Homo sapiens: one gene and its partners. The protein of the gene in region 1 interacts with the protein of each later gene in a biochemical or structural test. Each region holds a gene or a part of one and is shown on either strand. Other genes may lie near its edges.

What was found.
Region 2: the proteins of IGDCC3 (region 1) and LTF interact in a biophysical measurement, tested with the Homo sapiens proteins (one large-scale study listed by IntAct).
Region 3: the proteins of IGDCC3 (region 1) and IGFBPL1 interact in a biophysical measurement, tested with the Homo sapiens proteins (one large-scale study listed by IntAct).

Annotation. Positions count from the first base shown.
Region 1 is NC_000015.10:65,336,503-65,340,002, reverse strand, and holds part of IGDCC3 (immunoglobulin superfamily DCC subclass member 3 precursor), read left to right. Parts: intron 1-3,500.
Region 2 is NC_000003.12:46,447,782-46,451,505, reverse strand, and holds part of LTF (lactotransferrin isoform 1 preproprotein), read left to right. Parts: intron 1-832; coding exon 833-1,011; intron 1,012-1,477; coding exon 1,478-1,652; intron 1,653-2,488; coding exon 2,489-2,643; intron 2,644-3,724. UniProt on the Homo sapiens protein: Transferrins are iron binding transport proteins which can bind two Fe(3+) ions in association with the binding of an anion, usually bicarbonate. Lactoferricin binds to the bacterial surface and is crucial for the bactericidal functions.
Region 3 is NC_000009.12:38,417,739-38,421,462, forward strand, and holds part of IGFBPL1 (insulin-like growth factor-binding protein-like 1 precursor), read right to left. Parts: intron 1,443-3,724; coding exon of another isoform or gene 1,378-1,442; exon of another isoform or gene 1,361-1,377; intron 1-1,360. UniProt on the Homo sapiens protein: IGF-binding proteins prolong the half-life of IGFs and have been shown to either inhibit or stimulate the growth promoting effects of the IGFs in cell culture. They alter the interaction of IGFs with their cell surface receptors.

The DNA of each region.
Region 1 (3,500 bases):
TGTGGACAAAGGTGCCTTCTTCCTTTCTCCCCACCTACTGCCAAGCAGGACTTTGTCCTCCCTGTCGCTTTCTCTGGCCCTCACACCTGGAAGACCATTGCCCATCACCCCCTTCCCATCACCCAACTTGAAGTGAGGGACCCAAAACTGTCCCTACCAGACCAACAGATATCCGCAGGAGTGTAAAGCATCAAGAGCCAAAGTCACAGCACCACTGTCACGTGCACCAGCCACAGACACAATACCACCAACACCAGACATAAATACTCAATGCTAATACACTAGCTGGTCTGTACTGTCATCAGCAACACAGTGGCCTGCAGGGTGACTTGTTCAGATCTCAGGGTGCCCTGAAGTCCGGCCCTCAGCCCCACTTCCTCATGTTTGCTCAGGGACCCTCTCCCTAGAGAGACATAATGAGGGACAGTCCACCCGGCTCTGTGGCCTGCTGGCACAAGCCAGGGCATAAACACACTTGTGAATCAAACATGTTCCACCCTGAGAAACTAGAGGGGGCCGAAATGGCCTCAACATCCCTTTTCCTCAAACTTCCTAAAGAAAAAAATGCTGTGCCAGTCCGGGCAACGTAGGGAGACCCTGTCTCTATAAGAAATACAAAAATTGGCCAGGCACAGTAGCTCACGCCTGGAATCCCAGCACTTTGGGAAGCCAAGGCGGGCGGATCACGAGGTCAGGAGTTTGAGACCAGCCTGACTAACATGGTGAAAGCCCATCTCTACTAAAAATACAAAAATTAGCTGGGCATGGTGGCGTGCATCTGTAGTACCAGCTACTCGGGAGGCTGAGGCAGGAGAGTTGCTTAAGCCTGGGAGGCGGAGCTTGCGGTGAGCTGAGATCATGCCATTGCACTCCAGCCTGGGTGACAGAGCAAGATTCCGTCTCAAAAAGAAAAAGAAAAAAGAAATTAAAAAATTAGCTGGGCGTGGTGGTGCGCGCTTGTGGTCCCAGCTCCTCAGGAGGCTGAGGCGGGAGGATCACCTGAGCCTGAGAGGTCAAGGCTGCAGTGAGCTAGGATCATACCACTGCACATCAGCTTGGGTGACAGTGTGAGATCCTGTCTCAAAAGAAAAAAAAAAGAAAAAATACTATTGCTTATGAACCAGATGTGTGTGGAAGATTTTAGGAGACTCCAGCTAAGCTGAGTTTGCTGGCCCAGAGATTGTGGATCCTGTTCATGAAGACAGATGAGGAGGCAGGGCTGGAGGGGCCCTGAAGAGCGACTCATCCACTCCCTTCATTTGTGGCTGAGAGGATGCTGCCTGCCCAGGGTCTCACAGAAATCCTAGGACGCCTAAGGAATATGCAGGACTGACCAAAGAGTTGAGAGAGGGTATAAGGAAGGGAGGGAAGGAGGAGCCTCAGATGAAGAGGACCACACCCTCCCTCTTGCACCTGCCCTTCCTGGACCACACCTGTGCAGCCAGCTGGGCTCCCAGGGGTGGGGGTGAAGAGCCTTCCCTAGAGCTCATTACCTTTCCTCCACACCGTGAGAAGAAGCTAGTCCAGCATGCAGTCCACTCTGCAGTTACCTGGCCTTGGAGAGTGAGAAACTTGCTGGAAAACTAAGGGACATCCCAGCAGAGAGCCTGGCCTCAGTTTCCCTTTCCTAAAATAAAGAGATTAGCTTCAGATTCATGGTTTTCAATTACTCTTAAAGGCAAAGCTACCCTTCAAATTAAATGTTTAGCAGAACTGTAACCAAGTCAAGCTGATCGAGAGGTACAGCAAGGTGCTGCTCTGACGGAAGGGAAATGTGAGCAGGAGGTGGGCTTAAGTGCATCCAGGGGACCCTTAGGAGTCAGTCGCACTATGCACAGTGACGGATATCAGACTGGCTCCATACCTGTGACCCTTCCAGCTCTAGCACCATGTCCAACTGTGCTGTGGCTGCTTAGTGCTGAGGGGAGGAGGAGGGAGTCAGGCAGTGGAAGCCAGACTTTCTCCATCCCCAGCGCCCTGATAAGAGGCAGCCCTTTCCCTTGTATATTTCCTCAGGCCAGCTCCTAGCACTGGGTGCCTCCAGGGAGCCCAGGATGGGGCTAGAAGCACAAAAGGATTTGTTCCTTAATGAGGAGGCATCTGTAGTCAGCAGAGCCATTAGTCCCCACCCCAGGTCCCTGGGGGACTGGGAACTCCTATCCAGCTGGAGTGAAGAGGAGGCTGGCAGCTCCCCATCTTCGAAGGAGCAGGGCCTGGGGGATGTAGACAGCTGACCCGGGAGCCTGGGTGCCCTCTCCACTCCCTGGGCTCATGGCATCCAGTTGCCTTCCTGGAGGTGGAGGGCTAGAGGCAGTAGAGGGGCTCCAGCAGCACCTCGGCCCCCTCCCCCAAGTCCCTGGGCTTACTTACCTCCCTTGGCCAAACACAGCCTTTGGCCTGAGGCCGGGAAGGCCCACCTCCCAGTGCTCCCTGGGGATCCTCTCACCAAGCCTGATGGGAACACCAGCTGGGACACTTGCCCCCACCTCCCACCCCCAGGGCCCCAAGGTACTGTTTATAAGGGCTGTACCTACGTGGGGATGTGTGTGATTGATTACCTGCACAGAACCAGAGGTACACACCCGCCGCAGCAGTGGACGGATTCCCGTCCAGACACAGACACTCAGACCACATACACGGAGACACAGCCCCGCACACATGTACAAAGAGGCGCACACACCCATCAGACACACTCCCAGGAGGCCCTCAAAGACGAGGAGGCAGGGCGGTGATTTTTATGCATGTTTATATTTAATGAACCACATGCAAATGAGATGGAGAACACGCCACAAAGGAGCCAGCCCCCAGAGACTCTGGGTGGAAGGGCACAAAGGCTCGCCTTTTGGGCTGCCCTGGAGGCCAGATCAGGCTGGTGGATTGAGGGGGCCTGAGATGGGGGATGGGGGCCACGGGGAGGGTGGCCTGCCCACACCAGGGAGCCAGGAGCAGGAGCCAGGACGAGCTCCAGTGTCCCTGCTGCTGTGGGGGAGGGCTTCCTCTGGGAGGGGAGCGACTGTCCCAGTTGATGGAGTGCCTGAGACGAGGGGCTGCCTGCCTGGACAGATGGTGTACCGCCTTCCTGCACTTGAAGCAAAGTGGATTTTAATGAAATCGCAGCCCTGGTGCTGAAGCTGGGAACCCGAGTGGGAGGGGCTCCTTCCCCAGGCATTACAGGGTGGGGTTTGGGCATGGGTGGAAACGGGGGTGGGCAGAAACACTTAACCAGCCTGTAACTGGGAGGGGAGGGTGCACCACAGCCCCTCTGCACTGATGATCTCTGCAGACCAGAGTTCAAGCAGTTAGTTCAGATCCCCAAAAGGTGGGGAGGGGTCCCTGAATATTTATGACACATTGAAATGTAGATTGGTAGGTCTGACAGTCTTCTGAGAGGCTTGTCACCTTGGATGGATGCAACACCCTCTTGGGGTGCATCGAGAGACTGCAGATGAACTGGGGGTGGGAGGAGTAGGAGAAGGAGGGACCAAAAAAAAGCTCCCGGG
Region 2 (3,724 bases), on another chromosome or scaffold:
CTATTAAGATGAAGACGATCTCATGGTTTTCTGCCATTAAATGCAGATTACTTTAGTTTTTTTGATGTTCAGCCATTCTTTTGTTAATGGAATACACTGGTAAACCTTCATTCCAATCTATTAGCTTTTTAAATACTCTGTGAGATTGAGTTAGTTAGTACGTTATTTACAAATTTTGCATTTATGTTCGTAAGTAAAATAAACTTTTAATTCTTCCCTCCTATACTTTTTCTGATTTTGACATCAAGGTTGTACTAATCTCATAAAATGACTCGGGCAAGATTTTTTTCACTTTACACATTCTGAAGCAACTTATATATGATATTCCACATTTGCCTGAACTCATTCATAAAACCATTCTTCCCCTTCTTTTGATATACTCAGTGTTGGAAAGTGTCTCACCTTCCTGCCTTATTCCCTGCCTTGTTAACATTTTTGTCATTTTTATTCTTCCCAGAGATGTGAGTAAGGGAGCAACCCTTGGTGGCCCCCTGAGCTTGTCTCTGCAAAGTGACTTTTCCAGGCAGAGATGCCGCAGAAACAGACGGGTCTGGTTTGGCCTCTCTGGCCTGCCAGGCAGCAGCTGCACGGGAACCCCAGGGTGGCCTAAGTGATTTAGGATGAGGATCACACCTCGGCTGCCCCCTGAGGCTTTTGGGGCACTACCTTTACCTTTCTGAGTGTTCTGGAGCAAACCCCTGCCTTTCTGACCCTCAGTTTTGTCAGCTATCTCCCCAAGCTCAAAATTCTATAGGGAGAAGGGGAACTATAGCTCGAGGTTACTGCTGGAGTCGGCTTATCTAGACTCCCTCCCACCTCACCTTCCCTGCAGAGGACCTGTCAGACGAGGCTGAAAGGGACGAGTATGAGTTACTCTGCCCAGACAACACTCGGAAGCCAGTGGACAAGTTCAAAGACTGCCATCTGGCCCGGGTCCCTTCTCATGCCGTTGTGGCACGAAGTGTGAATGGCAAGGAGGATGCCATCTGGAATCTTCTCCGCCAGGCACAGGTATCTTCACCCACGGTCCTCCCCACTTGCTTGGATATGGGGGGCAGGGAGCAAGGTTTCTTACTTCCCTGACTTCTGCCACTCCAGAAGTCCTGTAGCTTTGCTGCAGGATAGCACACTAATGCATTGGGCTGCTTGCCCAGGCTGTACTGTGGACAGCAGAAGCAATGAAACTCTTCTGTCACACGGGCTGACAGCGTCTTATGATGGGAGCAGAAGCAGGGGGTGGTCGATGCAATCTTCTCAGGGCCCTAAGGTGCTTGGACCTCAGCAACTCTTCAAAGAATGAGCCATAGCTGAGCTTGGGTCTCCGAGATGGCACAAGTCCCTCTGCAGGAGGGTCTCAACCGAGGCTCCTGCTCTCAGTTAGAATGATCCCAAAGCTCCAGATACTCTTTTTTAACATCATTTTTTTGTTTCCTCCCTATTTACCATTGACACCATAATTCTATTTTTTCTTAATTAGGAAAAGTTTGGAAAGGACAAGTCACCGAAATTCCAGCTCTTTGGCTCCCCTAGTGGGCAGAAAGATCTGCTGTTCAAGGACTCTGCCATTGGGTTTTCGAGGGTGCCCCCGAGGATAGATTCTGGGCTGTACCTTGGCTCCGGCTACTTCACTGCCATCCAGAACTTGAGGAAAAGTGAGTGAGCCCAGGAGGGTCCTGAGGTCCGCCTGGTGTGGTCTTCTACTTCCCAGCAGGTGGCCCTACTTTGTGGCGGTCACTCCTTTTCCCAGACACTGTGGGGTCATCGTGGAGGTTTGATGCAGGTGTGAGTGTCTTCTGTGGATTAGGTCAGGTGTCTCTAAAAGAATAGTCTGGCCACCTGATCAGTGCACGTCAGGCTCCCCAGGCCTGGCAGAAAAATCAGTTTGCCTCCTATTAAGTGAGAAACATGAACATGAACAAAGATAGCCAGGACCCCTCCTGGATGAATCCGGGGGCCTGGATTTACCCACACTTCCCAGGCCCAGACCTTGAACTTAGTTGGGGACACCATGGTGGGGGAACTCAGCTATGGCTCCTTCTCTACTGGGGGGCTGGGGGTGGGAGTCTGGGGGAACCCAGAGGCTGCACCGTAGTTATTGGTGGTGATTGCAGGCGTTAGGGGAAGTCAGGGTTGGGCTCAAGGTCCCCTAGGCCATCTCTTGGGACTGTCACTGGTCTCTGGGTCATGGAGCGTTTATCCTCAGAGACAGAGACAATAGGCGCCTCCTGACTCTAAAGATTAATGGATAGATTAGAAGCCAGGGAACTTCTCCAAAGGAACAGAAGTGGGAAACACAGGGAGCTCTGTGGACCTGAAGAAGGGGCTTGGAGCTGAGAAGTGGAGGAGGAGAGGGTATGGGTCCACATGTCCACACATGTACTGTAGCTCCTGTTCCAGGGAGAGTCTGGGCAGGACCCTGGCTCTGGGGAGGTTGGACAACCTGGCAAAGCTCAGGTTGCCCAGCCACCTGCGGTCTTCCCTCTGGCAGGTGAGGAGGAAGTGGCTGCCCGGCGTGCGCGGGTCGTGTGGTGTGCGGTGGGCGAGCAGGAGCTGCGCAAGTGTAACCAGTGGAGTGGCTTGAGCGAAGGCAGCGTGACCTGCTCCTCGGCCTCCACCACAGAGGACTGCATCGCCCTGGTGCTGGTAGGGAGCTCCATCACAGGGGCGGGCGGTGGGCCCGGTGGAAGACCTAGGGCCTGGGCATCTGCTTAAAGTGAAGTCAACAGTCAAAGAGGCCACGGGGGCCTGGGTGAGGCAGGGATGCCTGGAGAGGTGTGCTCAGGGCCAGAAAGCATTTTAGTTTCAAAAAGCAGTTTACTGTGGGTTTCCCACTCCTCTGGTTATAAGAACAACTCAGGATTATTATAAGGAATTTGGAAAATATGGAAAGGTATTATGTTAAAACAAAACAACAACAAACCCCCCAAACCACCTGTGATCTCACACAGAGGGACAGACATGGTTAAAGTCTGGCTAATTCTCCATTCCAGTATTTCTCTGCACATCTGCAGATATGCATGCAACAATAATGAAGTGTTGCAGTATGTCGTTTTTAAGCCCTTTTCACTAAACAGCGTATAATGGGCATTCTTCCACATGAATATTTACTCTTGGAAAGCATTAATTTTTTTTTTTTTAAGAGACAGATTCTTGATCTGTCACCCAGGCTGGAGTGCAGTGGTGCGACCACATCTCACTGCAGCCTGGAACTCTTGGGCTCAAGTGATCCTCCCATCTCAGCTTCCCAAGTAGCTGGGGCTACAGGCATACGCCACCACACCTGCATAATTATTATTATTATTATTGTAGCGACAGGGTCTCGCTTTGTTGCCCAGGCTCGTCTCGAACTCCTGGGCTCAAGCAATCTTCCTGCTTCGGCCTCCCAAAGTGCTGGGATTACGGGTGTGAGCCACAGCACTCGGACGAAAACATTTTTTAAACATGCTTCCAGGATATCTTTTATGTGAATATGGCTCAGTTTAGTCATGCCCCCATTCCTCTTTGTCCCTTACTTTGCTATTATCAATAACCCTGTGGTGAGCATTCTTGAGTAGAAATCTTTGTCCACTTCTCTATTTTTAATATAGTTGTAAAAATATTACTGGGTCAAAGAGGAAGTTTCATACTACTGATGAGTCCATGATCCTGTGTTGTAGCCTGGACTTGTTCATTCTGGTGGTGGGCCAATATGACGACTTCAGCTTATGTGTTGGACAACTTCTGT
Region 3 (3,724 bases), on another chromosome or scaffold:
ATGGAGTCACAAGCATGTGAAATGCTGTCTACCAGAGAAGCTCAAGAGGGACTTGGCGCCCAGGGTTTTTACTGGGAGCTGGCCACAGAGGCACTCTCTGCCTAACTGAATACCCAAATTCCACACTCCGAGAAGGAAAGCAGGGGTTCAGCATAAACCACATTGTTTGTACAGTTCAGGCACAGTGAGCCACTCTCATCAATTCTGAGAAGAGTGGAACCCCCCTGAAATCTAAGTCCCCAGATACCAGCCCAAGGCCAACCTTGCCAGCAGGCCTTTCTGAGGATATGGTCGCAGGCCTGCCGTGTTAGCTGTTTTCTATACAACAATGAAACACCCCAAACATCACCCCCAGGGAACAGCTCTTATGAAGATAACCCATAACATGAGCAATGTGTCCTTGACACCAGCAGGACATTTCTAGTCCCTACTATCCCCAAGGGCTCATTCCAGCATGGCACTGGAGTGCTCAACGTCATGGCTGCCACCACAGGCAGGAAGGACAGCGTGGCAGGCAGGGGTGGAAGAGTCCAGGTTCAAATCCTTTCTCTGCCACGTCCCAGTCTTGGCCTCAGTGTCTTCTTCTTTAAAATGGGCACAGGAATCTATTCCCTTCCCAGCCCACTCCTCAAAGGCTGTTGTGAGGAACAATTGCAAGACCCCTTACAAACTGTAAAAGACCTCTGCAGAGGGACTTGAGGACTCAGGCAGGGTGTGCTGTCCTTAGGCATCTCCTCTAAAGCTCCCTGCATGCATGAGAGCCTCCTCTGGCCTTGGGTGAGAGGCACCAGGGACCATGACTACAGCCCTCACTCTGGGGAGCCAAGCACATACTCTTACTGTTGCCAGAGCCGCCACACTGCCAGAGGAACCAGGGCTTTCCTTTCTGCCTGCCTTTCACAAGAATGATGTGGCTTGCAGGAGGGAGGATGGCTTCTAGCTAGCCCAGTCTGTGAATGTGGAAGCTTCATCCCCCTATAGCTCTTCCTTGCTGATACTTGTTTCCTTCTGCTTGTGCCAGCAATAGCCCTAGAATTGCACAAATCCAACCATCCAAGGGCTAACCAGCAGGTAAGACAGTCACCCAGATGCACATGGTCACAGGAGGCAGTACTGTGGGGTGAGCAAAAACAGTACCAGAGGGAGACTCAAATGCCCAGGGGTCTCGCTGCCAACCACTTGAGCTTGGGCAAGTTGCTAATCATTTCCTTTTTATCTGCAAATGAAGATGATGACCGCAGCCTCGCATCCTTGGGGTGAAGGGAGAAAATGGATGTGACTGTGTTATTAACTGTGTGGATCTGTACAAATGAAAGGGATCAATATTATTATTATAGTGTGTGGTGATTTGTCCCCCTACCTCGTCAATTATATCGATCATTGATGGCTGGAATGAAAAAATCTTCCCAAATCCCTCTGAGATTTCTTTAAAGTTAATGGTGCTAGGGAAAGAAAGGATATCAAGTCATTCCCCAGGACCCCATCTGCTTGTATTAAAAAGCACATAACCAAAGATTTTAATAATCAACACACTGAACAGCCCTGATAATTTATGCTAATAGTCACGTTATGATGTGGAACAAGAAACAGCTTAATCCTGCTCCCTGCAGCCTCTGCCTCAGATCTCCTCCCTCAGCATGAAAGGGTTTTGAGCACAAACCCCCTTCTTTGTCCCTCTCACGAAGTGGCATGCGCTGCCTCTCCTGGTTACCTGGTAACACACACTAGCACAGACCTAGGTTTCTAAGTGGAGCTGGAATTTCAACCAAGGTGAATTTTCTAAGATTCAGGGTCTCAGGAGCTCACCGAAGCTGCCAGGGCTCAATGCCCTGGCGGGTGCTGGCCGGGACCCTGTTCCTATCTAATTTATCATTTGAAACATGACATTAACTTGCTGTCCGTAGGACCCCAACCCTCTCCCAATGCTAACAAATAGGGTGCACACACTGAACTATCCAGCCTTTAAAGTAATGAGAGCAATAATAATCATCATAATACTAAGGCCATACCACCTTACCAGTGAGAAGCTGAACCAATAATTCAGAATGTATCGAAGACCCACGTATGAATAATTCTTACTGTTGGAAATTGCTTTTGCATCCTTCTTCTTCCTTCTCCTCCTCCCCCTCCTCCTCCTCCTCCTCCTCCTCCTCCTTCTTCTTCTTCTTTTTAGACAGGGTCTCACTCTGTCTCCTAGGCGGAGTACAGTGGCATGATCATAGCTCACTGTAGCCTCGAACTCCTGGGCTCAAGAAATCCTCCTGCCTCAGCCTCCCAAGTAGCTGGGACTACAGGCACATGCCATCATGTCCAGCTAGTTTTTAGAATTTTTTGTAGAGATGGGATCTTGCTGCGTTGCCCAGGCTATCCTTGAACTCCTGGCCTCAAGCAATCCTTCCACCTCAGCCTCCCAAAGTGCAGAATGAAGCTTCCCCCTTCGGCCTTGCACCCAAGGCTTGCAGTGGCCTACCCCAAACTACTCTGGGGTGTCATCTCCTTTCCCAACCATCCTACCAGGCCTCGGCCCTATGGGCCCACTTGCACACCCACCAAAGGGCTCCCACCTCTGAGCCTCAGTTCATGCTGTGCCTCCCCCTTGCTAGCATTGGGATTCTCTCCCCATCCTTCAAGGCTTCTCTCAGGAGCTATAGCCCAGTGCTAAATAGAGGGACAAGTGACAAACCTTGGGAAAAACAGGAAGGTGGACCCAGATTGAGAAACCCCCAAGATTCAAGGCTGGCGGGTGCACAGCACCTTACTGATCAGGTTGCTAGCGGCTAGCTGTGCAGCGCCCATCTGAAAATAGCGAGGCAGGCCAGGCATGGTGGCGCACGCCTGTAATCCCAGCACTTTGGGAGGCCGAGGCGGGCAGATCATGAGGTAGGAGATCAAGACCATCCTGACTAACACAGTGAAACCCCGTCTCTACTAAAAGTACAAAAAACAAAATTAGCCAGGCGTGGTGGTGGGCGCCTGTAGTCCCAGCTACTCTGGAGGCTGAGGCAGGAGAATGGCGTGAACCCAGGAGGTGGAGCTTGCAGTGAGCCAAGATCACACCACTGCACTCCAGCCTGGGTGACAGAGTGAGACTCTGTCTCAAAACAAAACAAAACAAAACAGCCAGGCAAACCTACACTGGAGCCCTTTCACAGCTGGGACCAGCCAGGTGGCTCCAGGGAATTTCCTTCCATGTGCCTCAGCTTTCCCTTCTATCAAATGGGAAGGAGACCTCCCCAGGACACTTGTAAAAATCATGTAAAAAGATGGGTGCAGCCCAGGGATGGTATCTCATGTCTGTAATTTCAGCACTTTGGGAGGCTGAGGTGGGAGGAGTGCTTGAGGCCAGGAGTTCAAGAACAGCCTGGGAAACACAGTAAGATCCTGTCTCTACAAAAAATTCTAAAAATCAGCTGGGCATGATGGTATGTGCCTATAGTCCCAGCTACTTGGGAGGCTGAGGCAGGAGGATTCCTTGAGCCCAGGATCACAGTGGGCTGTGATCAAGCCATTGTATTCCACCTGGGAGATACAGTGAGACCCTGTCTCAAAAAAAAAAAAAAAAAAAAAGGATGCAAAAGCAATTTCCAACAGTAAGAATTATTCATATGTGAGTCTTCCATACATGTGTGCGGATCAAAGGATCACTCTCATTATGTGGCAGTTTGGGGCATTTCAGGGCATAGGAGGAAAGGGCAGAATTTAAGCCTGAAAACTGCTTCCCCAG